Linked DNA regions of Homo sapiens. The protein of the gene in region 1 purifies or fractionates together with the protein of each later gene. This does not show direct contact. Each region holds a gene or a part of one and is shown in the gene's direction. Other genes may lie near its edges.

The links. Proteins that work in one complex are often made in the same cells at the same time.
Region 2: the proteins of SLC43A2 (region 1) and PCYOX1 purify together in Homo sapiens (affinity purification with mass spectrometry; one large-scale study listed by BioGRID and IntAct). This does not show direct contact.
Region 3: the proteins of SLC43A2 (region 1) and CPT1A purify together in Homo sapiens (affinity purification with mass spectrometry; one large-scale study listed by BioGRID and IntAct). This does not show direct contact.
Region 4: the proteins of SLC43A2 (region 1) and TMEM70 purify together in Homo sapiens (affinity purification with mass spectrometry; one large-scale study listed by BioGRID and IntAct). This does not show direct contact.

Annotation. Positions count from the first base shown.
Region 1 is NC_000017.11:1,614,868-1,619,738, reverse strand, and holds part of SLC43A2 (large neutral amino acids transporter small subunit 4), read left to right. Parts: intron 1-2,969; coding exon 2,970-3,177; intron 3,178-3,443; exon of another isoform or gene 3,444-3,547; intron 3,548-4,704; coding exon 4,705-4,760; intron 4,761-4,871.
Region 2 is NC_000002.12:70,260,178-70,265,046, forward strand, and holds part of PCYOX1 (prenylcysteine oxidase 1 precursor), read left to right. Parts: intron 1-1,034; coding exon 1,035-1,209; intron 1,210-4,869. UniProt on the Homo sapiens protein: Prenylcysteine oxidase that cleaves the thioether bond of prenyl-L-cysteines, such as farnesylcysteine and geranylgeranylcysteine. Only active against free prenylcysteines and not prenylcysteine residues within prenylated proteins or peptides.
Region 3 is NC_000011.10:68,831,507-68,836,375, reverse strand, and holds part of CPT1A (carnitine O-palmitoyltransferase 1, liver isoform), read left to right. Parts: intron 1-4,869. UniProt on the Homo sapiens protein: Catalyzes the transfer of the acyl group of long-chain fatty acid-CoA conjugates onto carnitine, an essential step for the mitochondrial uptake of long-chain fatty acids and their subsequent beta-oxidation in the mitochondrion.
Region 4 is NC_000008.11:73,978,236-73,983,693, forward strand, and holds the end of TMEM70 (transmembrane protein 70, mitochondrial), read left to right. Parts: intron 1-520; coding exon 521-626; coding exon of another isoform or gene 627-634; exon of another isoform or gene 635-640; intron 641-843; exon of another isoform or gene 844-936; intron 937-2,919; coding exon 2,920-3,386; 3' UTR 3,387-4,548; downstream 4,549-5,458. UniProt on the Homo sapiens protein: Scaffold protein that participates in the c-ring assembly of mitochondrial ATP synthase (F(1)F(0) ATP synthase or complex V) by facilitating the membrane insertion and oligomer formation of the subunit c/ATP5MC1 through its interaction.

The DNA of each region.
Region 1 (4,871 bases):
CTCTTTCCCTGACTTCAGAGCCAATTCCTTTGCTGCTGGCAGAGCTGACATTTGAAACCAACACCAACTCACAAAGCAGCTCCTCCTTTCCAGAAGCTGCCCCACTGTGGATGGGCGAGTGGCCCAGGCCTGTCGGCTGTGGCGGTGTACATGACCGCTCTGAGCTCCACCCTGACGGGCTCGAGGACCCCGTCTGCCATGTGTTTGGCTGACCGTGTGGTAGAGCTTCTTTTTGGAAAACCGAGAGAAAGTGGCCGAGGTGGGAATCTGGTTGGTGACGTTGTATTTCTGTGGCTCCACATGGTTAACCTCGTGGCTCTGATCTCCTTAAATCCCCCCTCGATTCAACGTGGTTCTGTTGATTCCTCTCTCGATCTTTTTGGCCATTGTGATCTGGTGCCATTGTTTTTGTTTTGTTTTGTTCTGTTTTGTTTTTCGAGACGGGGTCTCACTCTGTTGCCCAGGCTGGAGTGCAGTGGTGTGATCTCAGCTTACCACAACCTCCGCCTCCCGGCTTCAAGCAATTCTCCTGTCTCAGCCTCCCGAGTAGCTGTGATTATAGACGCCCACCATGCCCGGCTAATTTTTGTATTTTTAGTAGAGATGGGGTTTCACCATATTGGCCAGGCTGGTCTTGAACTCCTGGCCTTAGGTGATCCACCCACCTTGGCCTCCCGAAGGGCTGGGATTACAGACTGAGCCACTGTACCCGGCCTGATTCTGTTTGTTTGTTTGTTTGTTTTTTGTTTTTTTTGAGACAGAGTCTAACTATTTGCCCAGGCTGGAGTGCAGTGGTGTGTGATCTTGGCTCACTGCAGCCTCCGTTTACCGGGTTCAATGATTCTCTTGCCTCAGCCTCCTGAGTAGCTGGGATTACAGGCATGCGCCACCATGCCTGGCTAATTTTTGAATTTTTAGTAGAGACGGGGCTTCACCATGTTGGCCAGGCTGGTCTTGAACTCCTGACCTCGGGCGATCCACCCGCCTCTGCCTCCCAAAGTGCTGGGATTACAGGCATGAGCCGCCACACCTGGCCCTGTTGTTTTTATTTATTCAGTAAACAGCTATTGTAGGCCAAGACCTGGGTGAGATACTGGGGACACAGAAGTGACCACAGTGCAGGCCCTGCCCTTCGGGGCTCACAGCCCAGTGGGGGATTAGACATGTCTTTGCGCTTCCACACACGCTGACGGGACTGTGCTCCCCACAGCCACTGCATCCGGCTCTGTGCCAGCTGATGGTGCCGTGATTCCCCGCCGGAGCCTCCAATAGCAGCAATGATCATGATAACCACGAGAACAGCAGCAACTTGTAGCTATTCATTATTGAGTGCTTTCTATGCCTGGGTGAGCTCCAGAAGGTTTTCTGAATTTTTCTCATTGATCTTCCCCCACACTCTAGGAGGTGGATCTTATCATTATATGATGTCCATGTTATGGACAAGGAAACTGAGCTAGAGCAAGGTCATGCAGGTAGAAAGTGGAGAATCAAACACTGGAAGCTAGAAACCAGATTCCAGTTCCACGCTCTTCATCCACACGGCCCCGGCGGGGCTCCTTGGCCACACGTTGGCATGAAGCACGAGTCCACCTGTGCGCATCCTTTCCAGTAACCTTGGAGGAACCCCGAGAGGCCTGAGCAAGCTTTTGCAAACCTCGGCGCTACAGCCCTGGCGCCAGAGGGCTGCAATTGGAAGGCAGGCAGTTACCGGAAGAAGAGCGTTTCCTTGACTCTCCCAGCGTGACCTCATGTCTAATCAAAGTCGGCTCCTGTTTTCTGCAGGATTAGTCAGCATCTCTTAACTAGCAGTCCCGGCCAGGAGAGCTCCTCAGCCACGTTCCCAGCCCGTCCTCCACCCTCCCATCTTCAGCTGCCACAGCACTTTTCTCTTCCTTTCTGTGTTGTTTTGGTGCTGGGTGGACTTTGAAGGGGGCCATTAAGGGCTGGGTGTGGCAAACACACCAGACTCAGCACCCAGCGAGGTCTAGGCATGGCCACGGGATGGCACCACTGTGACCCCGGCAAGGAAAATAAGAAAGGTGCATATCGGCTGGGTGTGGCGGCTCACGCCTGTGATCCCAGCACTTTGGGAGGCAGAGGTGAGAGGATCACCTGAGGTCAGGAGTTCGAGACCAGCCTGGGCAACATGATGAAACCCCATCTTTACTAAAAATACAAACACTAGCCGGGCGCGGTGGCAGGTGCCTGTAATCCCAGCTACTCGGGAGGCTGAGGCAGGAGAATTGCTTGAACCCGGGAGGCGGAGGTTGCAGTGAGCCGAGATCGTGCTACTGCACTCCAGCCTGGGCAACAGAGTGAGACTCCGCCTCAAAAAAAAAAAGAAAAAGAAAATATCAGGGGGAGAAGGTGGCATCTGTTCTATGTTTGAGAAGGCAGCTGGACTTCCCATTGAAGGAGGCGCCGCAGTCTCCCCACATGGACAGAGGAGAACCAGGCTATTGGGGTGAGACCAGTGCTTGTGCTTCCCAAGTGGTCTGGGTTCTGCCTCCATACTGGCTGCAGTCTGTCCCCACGGACATAGCTGCCGTGAGAAGGTTCTCACCAGCCTGGGGCCCCACAGCCAAGGCTGGGCCCTGAGGTCTGCCGTTCTAGGGTGGCGGATGCTCTCGAATGGGACTCTCAGCCTGGGCTTCGTTGCTCTTCAAGGGACACACAAAGCTCCTGAAACTGTGGATAAACCTTGGTGTGCATTTTCTGGGGAGGTCTTTATTGGATTTTTCAAAGGGTCCATGGCCCCCACAAAAGTTAAGAACCTCTACATTTTCACTCCAGGGGACTTGGGCCAAATGGCCATCCAAGCCTGCTGCGGGGTAGCCTGAGCCCTCGAGAGGCCGCCAGCCAGCCCTGGCATTCCCAGTGGGGGGACTCTGAATGGGCACCTGCCCTTCTGATCTTTGGGAATCCCTGTCATGACCCTGAGGTCAGGGTTTCCTTCCCTCTTCACACAGAGAATGTCACCAATGGCACAGTGGGCGGCACAGCAGAGCCGGGGCACGAGGAGGTGAGCTGGATGAACGGCTGGCTCAGCTGCCAGGCCCAGGACGAGATGCTAAATTTGGCCTTCACTGTGGGCTCCTTTCTGCTCAGTGCCATCACCCTGCCCCTGGGTATCGTCATGGACAAGTATGGCCCGAGGAAGCTCAGGCTGCTGGGCAGGTCAGTGTGGGTCCCTTAGGGGGCAGGGAGTGGGCAGGTGGACCCCCTGGGCTGAGTTCCCCACAGAAGGGTATCCTGGTCGTACCTGATATCAGGTGTACTGTGGAGCTCCCTGAAGGCCCTCCAGAATGGAGTTCCTACCCCGTCCGCCACCGAATCAGCAGGTACTGTGGTCCTCGCCGTGCTCCAGTACCGAATAAGAAAAGCTCCAGGCTCCAGGCCGCCCAGGGACCGGAGCTGCTTGTCACTAAGAACATGTGTTTCCCATCCCTTTGTAGTTCATAAGCATGATAATTGGGGTTTCCCTCGCATGTGTGAGACATGCTTCCCTCAAACCTTGTTACGAAGCTGGCACAGTATCCATCTGATGAGAAAAAAAACCAACAACACTGGTTTCCACAGCCCGTTTGACCTTATAGCTCCACCAGAAAAAAGATTTTCAACACGTACCCCCAATATAATAAGCACATGGAATTATAAATGATGTATATCTGTGCTCTTTTTTTTTTTTTTTTTTTCAAGACGGAGTCTTGCTGTGTCGCCCAGGCTGGAGTGCAGTGGCGTGATCTCGGCTCACGGCAACCTCTGCCTCCCCAGTTCAAGCAATTCTCCTGTCTCACCCTCCCGAGTAGCTGGGATTACAGGCGCCTGCCACCACACCCAGCTAATTTTTATATTTTTCATATTTATTTATTTATTTATTTATTTATTTATTTATTGAGATGGAGTCTCCCTCTGTCGCCCAGGCTAGAGTGCAGCGGCGCGATCTCGGCTCACTGCGAGCTCCGCCTCCCGGGTTCACGCTATTCTCCTGCCTCAGCCTCCCGAGTAGCTGGGACCACAGGCGCCTGCCACCACGCCCGGCTAATTTTTTGTATTTTTAGTAGAGACGGGGTTTCACTGTGTTAGCCAGGATGGTCTCGATCTCCTGACCTTGTGATCTGCCCGCCTCGGCCTCCCAAAGTGCTGGGATTACAGGCGTGAGCCATCGTGCCTGGCCCCTATGCCATTCTTTTTTTTTTTTTTTTCCTTTTGAGTTGGAGTTTTGCTGTTGTTGCCCAAGCAACTGGAGCTGGAGTGCAGTGGCTCCCGGCCCCCTATGCCATTCTTAATGTGCTTTATAATACATATACAAAAATATAAATGAAAATGGGCTGGGCACGGTGGCTTACACTGGTAATCCCAGCTTTTTGGGAGGCAGAGTTGGGTGGGTCACCTGAGGCCAGGAGTTCGAGACCAGCCTGGCCAACATGGTGAAACCCTGTCTCCACTAAAAATAAAAAAATTAGCCACGCGTGGTGGTGGGCGCCTGTAATATCCCAGCTACTTGGGAGGCTGAGGCAGGAGAAATGCTTGAACCTGGGAGGCGGAGGTTGCAGTGAGCCGAGATCGCGCCACTGCACTCCAGCCCGGGTGACAGAGCAAGGCTCTGTCTCAAGAAAAACCAAAAACCAAAAACAAAAACAAAACAATAACACTGAATAAAGTCATAATGGTAAATAACATTGCGTTTCTGCTTGGTTTTAGCGCCTGCTTCGCGGTTTCCTGCTTGCTGATTGCGTACGGAGCAAGTAAACCAAACGGTGAGTGTCCTCTCCCTCCATCTTCTGTCAGGGACCGGGGAGAGAGTGCCCTGAGCTGCTCCCAGGCCCACCTGCTCTTGGACACTGTCCTGGGCCTGCTGCTCCCTGCTC
Region 2 (4,869 bases), on another chromosome or scaffold:
CATCTCATTGTGATCATTTTGCAGCTGAGTAAATGAGACCCAGAGACTTGAATTGTCTGGCTCAAAGTCACTCACATATGGCCATGGCCAGGGTCAGTGGCTCATGCCTGTAATCCCAGCACTTTGGGAGGCCGAGGCAGAGGATCACTTGAGCCCAGGAGTTAGAAACCAGTCTGGGCAACATAGTGAGATCCTGTCTTTACTAAAAATAAAAAAGTTAGCCTGGTGTGATGGCACAAACCTGTAGTCCCAGCTTCTTGGGAGGCAGAGGCAGGAGGATCCCTTGAGCCTGGGAGATAGAAGCTGCAGTGAGCCTTGCATGCCACTGCACTCCAGCCTGGGCAACAAAGTGAGACCCTATCAAAACAAACCACCACCAACAAAACAAACTCCGTCACACAGCTGTGGATGCAGACACGTGCCTAGAACTTGGGATGTGCAACTGCTGCCCTGACAGCAGAGGAGCTGGATAGGTCATGGGGAAAGTCTGACAGGCCTCTGGAGGCCCTTTCGGCAGGGAGTATTTTGTAACTTTGGCCTCCTTCCAGTTATCTGAAATATCCAGTTTTGCAAAATAGGATTCTCACAGGAATGGAAGTGCCTCAGCTGCCTTCCACATCCTCTGTAGATGCTGCCTCTGCTTCCGTTTCCTCCACGAGGGCGAAGGTATACCCAGAACAAATTATGCCACGAAGATGCATGTCTGACATCTTTGTTTTTAAATTGAATTCAGTTGGTACTCTGGCTTTTTTCCTTTGACTATCCAGTTTTTTTAGACTTTTAGTCTAAAAATAGCCAGGTAAAAATATATCTACTTTTGATATATTAATATTTACATGATCATCTGACCCATCGCCTAGCAAATCTGCTTTTGGACAGTGTAGTGAAAGTATAGTGTTTCACACTGTTCCAAAGATAGAGCTCCTTTATGTGTCTCCTGAGAACTGAGGGAAGCCCCAAATTCACTCAGATTACGTTCTTTCATTTGATCAGCATAGACACCACTGACTTAGCTGTGCTTTATGTTTTTGCAGGTCTCTCTGCTGTTCAGGCCTCTGGTGGCCTACTGGGGATATATAATGGAGAGACTCTGGTATTTGAGGAGAGCAACTGGTTCATAATTAACGTGATTAAATTAGTTTGGCGCTATGGATTTCAATCCCTCCGTATGCACATGTGGGTAGAGGACGTGTTAGACAAGTTCATGAGGTAATTTTTTTTCCTTCCATTTAACCTAAGATCTTTTAATTTAGGTTAAATTAAACTTGATGAACTTTAGGAATTATGATTTCTTGTAAGCATTTTCTACCTCACAGCAAGGCCTGTTTATAACATTGTTAGGCAAAATGTTTTGTAGAAACTATGCAGACTATTTGCTTGGATATTGAAAGGTTGGTTTATTTTTGCTTCTGAAGTGTATTTTGCAAATGCTTCTTTAGTGTTGCCAGATACTGTTAGATGCCTTGAATTCTTATGACAACTTACTCTGGTAGGTACTGTTTTTAGCTTCTTTAAACAGATGCAGAAGGTGGCGGTGTAGAGAGGTTTTAAAAGGCAAGTTCACCCACATAGTAAGTGGTATAGCTGGAGTTGCCACCCAGGCAGTCTGGCCTTTGAGTCTTCACTCTTAATCTCTATGCTGTGCTGGTGTTGTGTATATGAATTGAGATAATGTGTACAAGAGCTTGTAGAAAGGATCAGAAAACTTAAATGGCCTTTAATAGTGACATGTTTTCAGTGAACCAGCAGCCTGAAGTAGAGTAAAAGTTCCATATTCCAAGAATTTACATTCTAGCACTGTTTTGGGTAGTGAGAATTCAGGTGCCTCTTTTTCGTCCTTATGCTTTTCTATATTTAAACAGTTTTTTTAATGCGTGTGAATATGTATCACTTTGGTAATCAGGAAGACTAACATAAAATAGCCAGTCTAATTTTGAAAGGTACAATCTGTATTTTTAAAGCTGTTGGCATGTTCTAGTTTTTTAGTTTTTTTGTTTTTTTGTTTTTGAGATGGAGTTTCGCTTGTTGCCTAGGCTGGAGTGCAATGGTTCGATATTGGCTCACTGCAACCTCTGCCTCTTGGGTTCAAGCGATACTCCTGCCTCAGGCTCCCGAGTAGCTGGGATTACAGATGCCTGCCACCACGCCCAGCTAATTTTTGTATTTTTAGTAGAGATGGGGTTTCACCCTCTTGGCCAGGCTGGTCTCGAACTCCTGACCTCAGGTGATCCACCTGCCTCGGCCTCCCAAAGTGCTGGGATTACAGGTGTGAGCTACCGAGCTTGGCCGGCATGTGCTAATTTTTTTTTTTTTTTTTTTTGAGATGGAGTTTTGCTCTGTCGCCCGGGCTGGAGTGCAGTGGCACCATCTCGGCTCACTGCAACCTCTGCCTCCCTGGTTCAAGCGATTCTCCTGCCTCAGACTCCCGAATAGCTGGGATTACAGGTGCCTGCCACTGTGCCTGGCTAATTTTTTGTATTTTTAGTAGAGACGGGGTTTCACTGTGTTAGCCAGGATGGTCTTGATCTCCTGACCTCGTGATCCGCCTGCCTCAGCCTCCCAAAGTGTTGGGATTGCAGGCATGAGCCACTGTGCCCGGCTAGCACATGCTAATTTTTATGCTGCTTTACAGTTTTAGGTACTGGAGGCCAGGATCGCATCATTACACTCCAGCCTGGGTGACAGAACAAGATTCCATCTTGAGGGGAAAAACAAAACAAAACAAAACATGTCATATGACCAGGTATTGAACAGGACAAATATGAGTTAAGCAGGGCTGGGCACAGTGGCTTATGCCTCTAATCCCAGAATTTTGGGAGGCTGAGGCTGGTGGATCACCTGAGGTCAGGAGTTTGAGACCAGCCTGACCAACATGGTAAAACCCTGTCTCTACAAAAAATATAAAAATTTAGCCGGCGTGGTGGTGCATGCCTGTAATCCCAGCTACTTGTGAGCCTGAGGCAGGAGAATCACTTGAACCTGGGAGGCAGAGGTTGCAGTGAGCCACGATCGTGCCATTACACTCTAGCCTGGGGGACAGAGCCAGACTGTCTAAAAAAAAAAAAAAGAAAGCTAAGCAGGATATGCTCTGGTTTCTATAACTCATGGTAGTTTGGGGTTTCTTTCTTTCTCAACATCATTCTTAGGTCAGTTCCTTAAATGCCTTTCCCGTGGGTACCTTAAGTCCATCTACAGTGCATAATGTTTTTAAGTAGCCATTCATTCATTCACCCAATATTGAATACCTGTTAGGTGCTAGGCATTGTTCTATGTTGAGAGTATAGGACCTACAACATGTCCTTGTCCTCAAAGAATATATATTCTAGTGGAGAGACAGGCAATACACAACCAAGGAAATATATAGAATTTGCGTAGAGACGGCCAGTCACTTTATAGAAGGTGGGTGGCATGGTGCTGCATACTCAGCAGGCAGATCAAGTTCTGATGGCATCAGCCCTGCTTGTGTGTATTGTTTTTCTTTTCTTTTCTTTTTTTTTTTTGAGATAGAGTCTCGTTTTGTCGCCCAGGCTGGAGTGCAGTGGCGGGATCTCGGCTTACTGCAACATCTGCCTCCCAGGTTCAAGTGATTCTCCTGCCTCAGCCTCCTGAGTAGCTGGGACTACAGGCACATGCCACCATGCCTGGTTAATTTTTTGTATTTTTAGTAGAGATGTGGTTTCACCGTGTTAGCCAGGCTGGTCTCAAACTCCTGACCTTGTGATCTGCCTGTCTCGGCTTCCCAAAGTGTTGGGATTATAGGCGTGAGCCACTGTGCCCGGCCCTCTTTTTTTTTTTTTTTTTTTTGATACAGGTCTCACTCTGTCACCCAGGCTGGAGTGCAGTGGTGTGATCATGGCTCACTGCAGCCTGGACCTCCTGGGCTCAGGGGATCTGCCTACCTTAGCCTCTGTGTAGCTGGGACTACAGGCACGTGCCATCAGATCTGGCTAATTTTTTGTATTTTTTTTGTAGAGATGAGGTTTGGCCATGTTGCCCAGGCTGGTCTTGAATTCCTGGGCTCGAGTGTTCCACTCACCTGGGCCTCCCAAAGTGTTGGGATTACGGTTGTGAGCTCCTGTTCCCAGCCTTGTTTTTTTTTTTATCTGTGGCTTGCTTGAGATGTAGAGAATTGCCCTTTGAGAAATTAAGAAATTACTTTTTTTTTTTTGAGATGAGTTTCACTCTGTCACCCAGGCTGGAGTGCAGTGGTGCAATCTCGGCTCACTGCAACCTCTGCCTCCTGAGTCCAAGCGATTCTCCTGCCTCAGCCTCCTGAGTAGCTGGGATTACAGGCATGTGCCACCATACCCAGATAATTTTTTTATTTTTAGTAGAGATGGGGTTTTACCATGTTGGCTAGGCTGGTCTCAAACTCCTGGCCTTAATTGATCTGCCCGCCTTGGCCTCCTAAAGTGCTGCGATTACAGGCATGAGCCACCGCACCTGGCCTAAGAAATCACTTTTGAAGTGAATTCAAGGTATTACAGAACTGGGAAAAAGAACCAGTGAGGGGATACATAGGTTATACTGTTTTTGACTTTAAAAAATAATTTACGGGCCGGGCGCGGTGGCACACGCCTGTAATCCCAGCACTTTGGGAGGCCAAGGCAGATAGATCTTGAGGTCAGGAGTTCGAGACCAGCCTGGCCAACATGGTGAAACTCCGCCTTGCTAAAAATACAAAAATTAGCTGGGTGTGGAGGCGCAGCTAATGCCAGCTACTTGGGAGGCTGAGGCAGTAGAATCGCTTGAACCCAGGAAGCGGAGGTTGTGGTGAGCCAAGATCAAAGTATACACAAGGTGGAGAAAGACCTATGTAACAGTAGTAAACCATGACACTCGAAAGAGGGCTCAAGCTTGTGGTAGGCA
Region 3 (4,869 bases), on another chromosome or scaffold:
CCTCTTACATAGCTAGGACCACAGGCATATGCCACCACACCTAGCTAATTTTTTATATTTTTTTGTAGAGACAGGCCTCACTATGTTGCCCAGGCTGGTCTTGAACTCCTGGCCTTAAGTGACCCTTTCACCTTGGCCTTGCAAAGCGTTGGGATTCCAGGCATGAGCCACCACGCCGGGCTTCCTGGTTTCTTTATACTTCTTCAAATACACACAGTGGCTCAATGTGATGTCCAGTACAGTTTGCACAAAATACAACCACAGATTGCTAAAAGGTATACATCGAAGTCAGAAGGTATCAAATGCTGGCATTGAGATTTGGCATGGGGTGGGGGTGCAACAGGTAGGAAGAGAAATCCACATTCCTAGAGGGTTTGCATTGGCACCACAGGGCTACAGTTGGAAAGGGACAAAGAACGTGTTCCTGCAGTAAAGACCTAACAGGTGTCAGAGCTGGCTGCCACGTCCTCCTGCAGTTTGCCGGAGGAGGTAAGGGCATCCTGCATACTTTATGTGAGGCAAATACTTGCTCAAGGTCACAGGTCTGAGTAATTGGTAGAGCTGGGATTTGAACCCAGATCTGTGTGTTTTCTTTCCCTTTCCCAGGCTGCTTCCCAGACCACTGGGCAGCCAGAGGGCCTGGGTTTTGGAGGCCCCCACTCCCTACCCCATGCAGACTGGGTGTGGCACTGAATCCGCCTCTAGGGTTTCTGGGTTTCCATTTCCTCATCTGTAAGGTGGTGGGTCTGAACCTGTCATTCCATGTCACACGAGTTTTGTGAGGATCCAATCAGAGGTCAGATGTGAAGAGAGTTTTGAGTGTGTAAAGTAAATACAGGCTCTAGCAAACAATGTCCTGGCTGCAGGCGGCATTTAGGGACACCAATGTATTTTGCAGTCCCCACATTAGAAGTTCAGTTCAAGTTCAGTTTGAATTAGAAGTTCAAGTTGTTATATTCTGTGCAAAGGTGAAGAATATGCATGGGAGATACAGGGGACACCGCTCCTGTTGTCTTAGGGACATTTGTGGGAACAATATACTGGTACGAAGAGGAGGTTTAGGATGTCCTTTGGGCAGGTGCAGGTCTCCTCCTTGCAGTCTGAGCTCCTGCCCGAGTGCCGATGCTGGCTAGAGGCAGGGCAGGCACAGTGGGAAAGAAGTAGCAGCTGTTAAACTTCTGGTGGGCTTCTGAATAGCTAGGTCAGATAACTGGGTCTGTCAATACGTTGGCTATCTTCTTTATAAAATTGTGAATCTTTGTGGCTTTTCCAAATTTTTTTTCTAAGATCATATTTGTCTGTATTTATCTAACCATTACTTATTGACGTGGTGCACTATAAGGTCTAAATTTGAATTGGCTTAATTTTTTTTTTTTTGAGATGGAGTCTCGCCCTATCGCCCGGGCTGGAGTGCAGTGGCGCAATCATGGCTCACTGCAACCTCCGCCTCCCCAGTTCAAGCAATTCTCCTGCCTCAGCCTCCCGAGTAGCTGAGATTACAGGCATGCACCACCATGCCCAGGTAGTTTTTGTTTGTTAGTAGAGACAGGGTTTCATCATGTTGGCCAGGCTGGTCTCAAACTCCTGACCTCAAGTGATCCACCCAGAATTGGCTTAATTTTTACAGTACTTGGTAAGACAGGGTCTCGCTCTGTCATCCAGGCTAGAGTGCAGTGGCGTGATCATAGCTCACTATAACCTCAAACTCCTGGGCTCGAGTGATACTCGCAAGTAGCTGGGACCACAGGCATGCACTACCCACACCTTGGCTAATTTTTGTATTTTTTGTAGAGATGGGGTCTTGCTACATTGCCCAGATTGGTCTCAAATACCTGGGCTCAAGCGAACTTCCTGCCTTCGCCTGCCAAAGTATTGGGATTACAGGCATGAGCCACCATACCCAGTCCAGAATTCCTTTTATTTTATTATTTTTATTTTTTGAGACGAAGTCTCCCTCTGTCACCCAGGCTGGGGTGCAGTGGCATGATCTCGGCTCACTGCAACCTCTGCCTCCCGGGTTCAAGCGATTCTCCTGCCTCAGCCTCCCGAATAGCTGGATTACAAGTGCCCACCACCACACCTGGCTAATTTTTGTATTTTTACTAGAGATGAGGTTTTGCCACGTTGGCCAGGCTGGTCTTGAACTCCTGACCTCAGGTGATCCACACGCCTCAGCCTCCCAAAGTGCTGGGATTATAGGCATGAGCCACCGTGCCCAGCCCAGAATTCCTTTTATAACCTGACGACCCATTATATTGACCCCATAAATGTGAATAGTCCATTATGATAAACTTCAGTACAGGAAATCCACTGTGTGGCCAATTTAAATAATGTGAATATTGAATGATCAGTCATGAATTCAAGACGCAACCTTTCATAATGAAAGCTCCAGGCTGGGTGTAGTGGAGCACACCTGTAGTCCCAGCTTAGGCTGAGGCAAGATGATCTCTTGAGCCAGGAGTTCAAGGTCACGCTCGGCAACAGAACAAGACCCTGTCTTATAAAAAAAAAATAATAATGAAAATCCTTCACCTTTCTTGTACATGAAACCCTCCGAAAAACATAAGGTGAGTCTTACATTCTCACTTCTAAGGTGCTTCCATCAGGTTTGGGAAACAATTTCTTTTTTTTTTTCTTTTTTGAGATGGAGTTTCGCTCTTGTTGCCCAGGCTGGAGTGCGGTGGTGGGACCTTGGCTCACTGCAACCTCCACCAACCAGGTTCAAGCAATTCTCCTGCTACAGGTGCCCACCACCACACCCAGCTAATGTTTTGTATTTTTAGTAGAGATGGGGTTTCACCATGTTGGCCAGGCTGGTTTTGAACTCCTGGCCTCAGGTGATCCGCCCACCTTGGCCTCCCAAAGTGCTGGGATTACAGGCGTGAGCCAACACGCCCAGCCAAGTTTGGGAAACAACTTCTGTTTGTGTGTATACACATTTACTGGAAAAGTACAAGGGCACCATTACAGATGTGCATATCTGCAATTGAATAACGATGTGGCTCATACAGTGCAGAGAGCGCACACCCACACTTGCCTGGAGAAGAGGAGCTGCTGCTTTTCTTCCTTCCCATTATTGCTAATTTTTGCCTGCATCTCAGTTCAGAAGAGCCATGAACTTTACTGCACATGTGTGCTAGTTCTAGGGAACCCCCTGGGCTGCTGCTGTCCTTCCAGAGCCTTCCTGGTACTTCCCTTGAAGTTCTTTGGGCAGCAGTGAGGAGGCCAGGCCAGATTTTTGCCACCTTGGACATCATGCATGTTGTGAAGGTGGTTTCCCCGAGCTGGAGCCAGTCCCGGAGGCTGGCACTAGCTTTCTAGCGAAGCAGAATCTTCCCAGGCATTGGTCACCCGGGCATCCAAGAATGTGTTGTAGATGATGAGATAACTGCCCTGCCCTTCGCCAGAGACACTGCTTCTGACCCTGCCTACAGCGCCTTCTCCAGTTTTTCCAGGGATGAGGCCCATGTCATCCAGCCTCACACTTTCTCTGTTCCTAGAGGCCCTGCCTGGTATTCCTGCTGAGCTAAGCTGTCGCTTCCCATGGGTAACATTTTCTCAGAGGATTTCCAACATAGTTGTTTACCGCTGGAGGAGATGGGCAGCTGTTAGCTAGGTTTGAATAGAAAGCAGAGCCTGCTCCTGTGTGCATGGGCACTGTGCAATGCTAGTGGGAAGACTGCAGCATGTGAATAATTTTACAGTTGGCACTGATGGTGTTTATACTTACTGGAGTTTTATTGCTGGCTGCAATCTCATCATTTTGGTTACAACAGTGACCTAATTTTATATCTGTGTTGTAACTTTAGGAATCCTAAGTAGAACTTTTTGTGTAGTACCTACCACTTTACTTTGGGAGTTAAGAGTATAAGTTTTGGAGTTGGACCTGGGTTTTTGTTTGTTTGTTTGTTTGTTTGTTTGTTTTTGAGACAGAGTCTCGCTCTGTCACCCAGGCTGGAGTGCAGTGGTGCAATCTTGGCTCACTGCAACCTCCACCTGCCAGGTTCAAGAAATTCTCCTGTCTCAGTTTCCCTAGTATCTGGGACTACGGGTGCATGCCACCAAGCCCAGCTAATTTTTTGTATTTTTAGTAGAGACAGGGTTTCACCATATTGGTCAGGCTGGTCTCGAACTCTTGAGCTCAGGTGATCTGTCCGCCTTGGCCTGCCAAAGTGCTGGGATTAGAGGCGTGAGCCACCGCACCTGGCCTGGGCCTGGGTTTGATTTCCAGCCCTGCTATTTGCTGGCTGTGACACTGGGCAAGTTTCTTGACATCTAAGCCCTGGTTTTCTCATTAGTACATGGAGATAGCCCTAGTACCCATTTCCTAGGGTGCTAGTGGGAATTAAATGATCTAATGCTAGTCAAATACATCAATATAAAAATATATATGGGTCACATTGTCTAGCATATGCCAAAGGGTTTGGTAAAAAGAATGTTCTGGGTCGGGCACAGTGGCTCATGCCTGTAATCCCAGCACTTTAGGAGGCCAAGGCAGACGGATCGCTTGGGGTCAGGAGTTCGAGACCAGCCTGGTCAACATGGTAAAAACCCATCTCTACTAAAAATACAAAATTAGCCAGGCGTGGTGGTGCGTGCCTGTAATTCCAGCTCCTGGGAAGGCTGAGGCAGGAGAATCACTTGAACCCAGGAGGCAGAGGTTGCTGTGAGCCGAGATCATGTCATTGCACTCCAGCCTGGGTGATGGAGCAAAACTTCGTCTCAAAAAAAAAAAAAAGGAATGTGCTGTAACTTCATTATTAAAAGCACAAAAAGGAATCTTTATGTCTTACCTACCTACCTTCCCACACACCTATCTATTAGTATCTCCATACGTGTTGATTGCAAGGCTGTGTTGAAAGACTTCTG
Region 4 (5,458 bases), on another chromosome or scaffold:
ACACCATGCCCGGCTAATTGTTTGCATTTTTAGTAGAGACGGGGTTTCACCATGTTGGCCAGGCTGGTCTTGAACTCCTGACCTCAAGTGATCCGCCCCCCTCGGCCTCCCAAAGTGCTGGGATTACAGGCATGAGCCACTGCACCTGCATTACAATTTTAAAAATAAACTTAAGCTGGGCATGGTGGCTCATGCCTGTAATCCCAGCACTTTGGGAGGCCAAGGTGGCAGATCACTTGAGGTCAAGAGTTCAAGACCAGTCTGGCCAACATGGTGAAACCCCGTCTCTAATAAAAATACAGAAATTAGCCGGGTGTGGTGGTGGGCACCTGTAATCCCAGCTACTCAGGAGACTGAGGCAGGAGAATTGCTTGAACCCGGGAAGCAGAGGTTGCAATGGTGAGCTGAGATCGCACCACTGCCCTCCAGTCTGGGAGACAGAGCAAGACTCTGTCTCAAAAAAAAAAACTTAAAAAAATTTAAGAAGGTTAGTTGACCATAATGATCCCTGTTTCAATAGATCCCTGTTTATTGGGAAGGATATGTTCGATTCTTAAATACGCCATCTGACAAATCAGAAGATGGAAGGCTAATTTATACTGGCAATATGGCCCGAGCAGTGTTTGGTAAGTAATTGGAGGTGGGTGTACTTACTTTGTTTTTTTCTCTTTTAATTGTAAAAATATCCTTACCATATCTTACTTGTTGTTATGGCATCCCTTAATTACAAGACGTAAGGAAAATTAGATTTTCATTTTTTTTTCTTGAGGTGTGTTGATAAGATGTAGAGACCTTTGCATTTTTAGATTTTTATTTGAGACAGAGTCTCACTCTGTTGTCCAGGCTGGAGTGCAGTGGCATGATCTTGGTTCACCATACTCTTCGCCTCCCATGTTCAAGCGATTCTCCTGGCTCAGCCTCCTGCTGGGATTACAGGTATGCACCACCACACTTGGCCAATTTTTGTATTTTTAGTAGAGACAGGGTTTCACCATGTTGGTCAGGCTGGTCTTGAACTCCTCACTTCAAGTAACCCACCCACCTCGGCCTCCCAAAGTATTGGGATTACAGGCGTGAGCCACCACGCCCGGCCTCTATTATGTTTTAATATTTCGAAGGGGTAACTTCCCCTCATTGCTTTATTTTTTTATTTTTTGCTGCTTTTGTTTTTCCAAATAAACTTTATAATCAACTTGTTTAGGATCTCAACTTTATTTTCCAAACAGATGGTATTTTTTATTAGGATCGTATTAAAATTATAAATTAAAGGTAAGGTAAATTTACATTTTAAGTCATTTTTTATTGTGGTTAGATAAACATAAAATTTTTCACTTTAATCATTTTGAAGTATACAGTTTAGAAGCCATTTTTTAAAAATAATTTTTATTTTTTAGAGACAGGGTCTCTGTCATCTAGGCTGGAGTGCAGTGGTGTGATCATAGTTCACTGCAACTTCAAACTTGTGGGCTCGAGTGATCCTCCCACCTCAGCCTCCCAAATAGCTAGGACTACAGACATGTGCCACTACACCTGGCTGATTTTTTTTTTTTTAAGCTAGTCAAATTTAGCAGTGGGGACATTGTATACCAACTTTAGTGATGCCAGTGTTAAGTTCTGATAACTCATTACCATCAGACCAGCCTTGGCTAATTAAAAAAAATTTTTTTTGTAGAGACAGGTCTTCCTATGGTGCCTAGGCTGGTCTCAAACTGGTCTCAAGCAGTCCTTCTGCCTACACCTTCCAAAGTGCTGAGATTACAGGCATGAGCCACTGCACTCTGCTAGAAGTCATTTATTTTTAATCTTTCTAAGGTAATAGGTAAAAATGGTATCTCAGTGTTTTTTTTGTATTTTTTATTATTTATTTATTGAGACGGAGTTTTGCTCTTGTTGCCCAGGCTGGAGTGCAGTGGCACAATCTGGGCTCACTGCAACCTCCACCTCCCAGGTTCAAGCAATTCTCCTGCCTCAGCACCCCCAGTAGCTGGGATTATAGGTGCATGCCACCAAGCCTGGCTAATTTTTGTATTTTTAGTAGAGACAGGATTTCGCCATGCTGGCCAGGCTGCTTATCTCATTGTTTTAACTTGAATGTCTTTCCTTACTAAAGAAATTGAATACCTTTCCCATATGTTTCTGTTTTTTTTTTTTGAGATGGAGTCTCGCTTTGTCTCCCAAGCTGGAGTGCAGTGTGCAGTCTTGGCTCACTGCAGCCTCTACCTCCTGGGTTCAAGGATTTTCCTGCCTCAGCCTCCTGAATAGCTGGGATTACAAGCACTTGCCACCATGCCCAGCTAATTTTTGTATTGTTAGTAGAGATGGGAGTTTCACCATGTTGGCCAGGCTGGTCTCGAACTCCTAACCTCAAATGACCCACCTGCCTCAGCCTCCCAAAGTGCTGGGATTACAGGCATGAGCCAATGCGCCTGGCCGTCCGATATGTTTTTTAACCACTGGTTTTATTTCTCTGGTGATTTGCTGTTTTAATCCTGGGCACTTAGCCTGATAGAATTTCCCATGTTTGAATATTTTATGTTAGATATACTGGAGTGCTTGTTAATAGAGAGTTTTGTTTGATAATCTGCTATCTGAATCAACTTTTGTAGTACAATATTAGTAAGGATCTTTAAGTAATATTAACTACTTTATTGTGGAACTGAGGTAGGGCCACTTAAACCCTAAAGCAGATTTCCTGCCTGGAGAGGCAGTGCATTCTAATGGTCAGTAGCAGGGACATTGAAGTCAAAATATGTAAAGTCCTTAAAACAGAGCTTAGAATATAATAAGCACTGTATTTATGGTTTGATTTTGTTGTCTTGAGCTGATACAGTAAGAAGAAAAATGGAAGAATTAGTGGGATAGATTGATTCTTTTATAAAATTTAAAAGTATTGATCCTCTCTCTTTTTTTCCCATTTAGGTGTGAAATGTTTCTCTTATTCTACGAGTCTGATTGGCCTTACATTTCTGCCATACATTTTTACACAAAATAATGCTATTTCTGAAAGTGTGCCTCTGCCTATTCAAATCATATTCTATGGCATCATGGGAAGCTTTACGGTGATCACCCCAGTGCTGCTTCACTTTATTACAAAAGGCTATGTCATTCGATTGTACCATGAGGCCACAACAGACACTTATAAAGCCATTACCTACAATGCTATGCTTGCAGAAACGAGTACAGTGTTTCACCAGAATGATGTGAAGATTCCAGATGCTAAACATGTATTTACCACATTTTATGCTAAAACAAAATCACTGTTAGTTAATCCAGTGCTCTTTCCAAACCGTGAAGACTATATCCATCTAATGGGTTATGACAAAGAAGAATTTATTTTGTATATGGAAGAAACCAGTGAAGAGAAACGGCATAAAGATGACAAATGAGCCTATTTGTTAGTGTTCGTGCTCAAATGTGATTTACGTTTTAATGTATAATAATAAAATTGCCTTTTGCATTCCGTTAGTGACTGATTGTTAAAAATAATTTGAAATTATCAAAGCTTTTAATTTCCAGAGAATGATGTTTGTTTATAATAAAACAAGCTATGTTTGAAAACCAAAATGTAGTATCTACCATTCGTGTTTTAGAAAGGTATGTGAATAAATATGTTCATGCTAGTATAAGAGTTCTGTGTTACTGTGGTTGACTCTAAACTGGGGATCTGATGTCAGTAGCAAATGGGAGAGTTGCTTTATTCTTTGTGTATGGATTTTTCTAAGTGTATAAATATTTTCCGACATTAAAAGACATTTTCTCTTTGAGGAAGACACAGTCATAGGTGGTGCGGAGCTGTGGTCCACCTGCTCCTGCTCCTGACTCACTGCTCTTTGCTGTTGCCTGAGGACCAAGTCTGTCAGGAAGCTGGCTAGGAAGCCTTGCAGCAGCCATGGCTTTTAAACATACCAGAAAAACACCCGTGGAGTCAGAGGTGGCAATTCACCGAATTCATATCACTCTAACGAGTTGCAACGTAAAATCCCTGGATAAGGTGTGTGCTGACTTGATCTGAGGAGCAAAGGAAAAGAATCAGTGAAAGGACCAGTTTGAATGCCTACCAAGACTTTGAGAATCACTACAAGAAAAACTTACGGTGAAGGTTCTAAGGCATGGGATCGTTTCCAGATGAGAATCCACAAGCGACTCATTGACTTGCGCAGTCCTCAGATAGTTAAGCAGATTACTTCCATCAGTATTGAGCCAGGAGTTGAGATGGAAGTCACCATTGCAAATGCTTAAGTCAACTGTTTTCATAAATTGATTACCAGTTGTTAAAAAATTTTCAAAAAACCGCAAAATTTCAAGAAATTCACAAATTATGGGAGCAGTTTTAAGTCTTCTTTGGTTCAGAACACAGGTTTTTGCCTAACCCCTGGCATGATTGCCCATAAGAACATACATGTACAGTTGAACTGGTGGTTAGCTATACGGGAAATGGTAAGTAGTGTTGTCTTCAGTATCTTAATTTGTTTCTGCAACTGTGCACTCCTCCCTTGGTGGCACCCTATGGGTGTAGGAAAACCACTGTTATTAAACAGGTGAAAAATACCTTGTGTAAAATTGCTGTCTCTATGCTAGCTTTGTCAAGAATATCCATTGTAAGATTTTTACCTCTATTGTAAAGTGGAGATTGACTCTTGCCAAGGATTTTTAGCCAGGAACAAGAGGCCTCAAACCACACTATTTAGATCAGTAGATATTTACTAAGTGCCCAGTACTGTGCTAGTTACTAAGATCACAGTTAAGAATGAAACACCCCGTCTGTCTTTATGGAGCTACCTAACATTGTCTATGGCCACCATGATAGTAAATTTAAACTTTATGGCGTACATGTGTATGAGGGAGGTTGATGGGGAAGCAGCAGGAACATCTGTTCAAAGAGATCATTCAACTCCCAGGCTGCTCGAAACTTATTCATAGGAGATAAGACAGAAAAGCTGTCTTTCTGAGACGTAGAGCCTGCCCTCTGCTTGGATTGTCCAGCTCACCAGACTGAGAATTCCCACCGCCATTCCTCTGTGCCATCTTCTGCTCAAGGTGGGTTTTTGCCTGCTTGCTTCTCTGTCCTTTGTCCCCTAGATGTATCCTAGCAATGAATGAGAGATGTGTTTCTATTTTTTTCATAGCAACCTACTAGATAAGGGAAGCTTGTCCAGCCTGCAGCCCAGGACGGCTTTGAATGTGGCCCAACACAAATTCGTAAACTTAAATTTTATTTTTGAGATTTTTTTTTTAAGCTCATCACTATCATTAGTATATTTTATGTGTGGCCCAAGACAATTCTTCCAACGTGGCCCAGGGAAGCCAAAAGATTGGACACCCCTAAGATAAGAGATATCTTTCTATAGAAAGTTATTCTATGATCAAATGTTTATTATGGATACATTAGAAAGTAGAAGGAAGAAAGAGGCTGGGTGTGGTGGCTCTTGCCTGTAATCCCAGCTACTTGGGGGGCTGA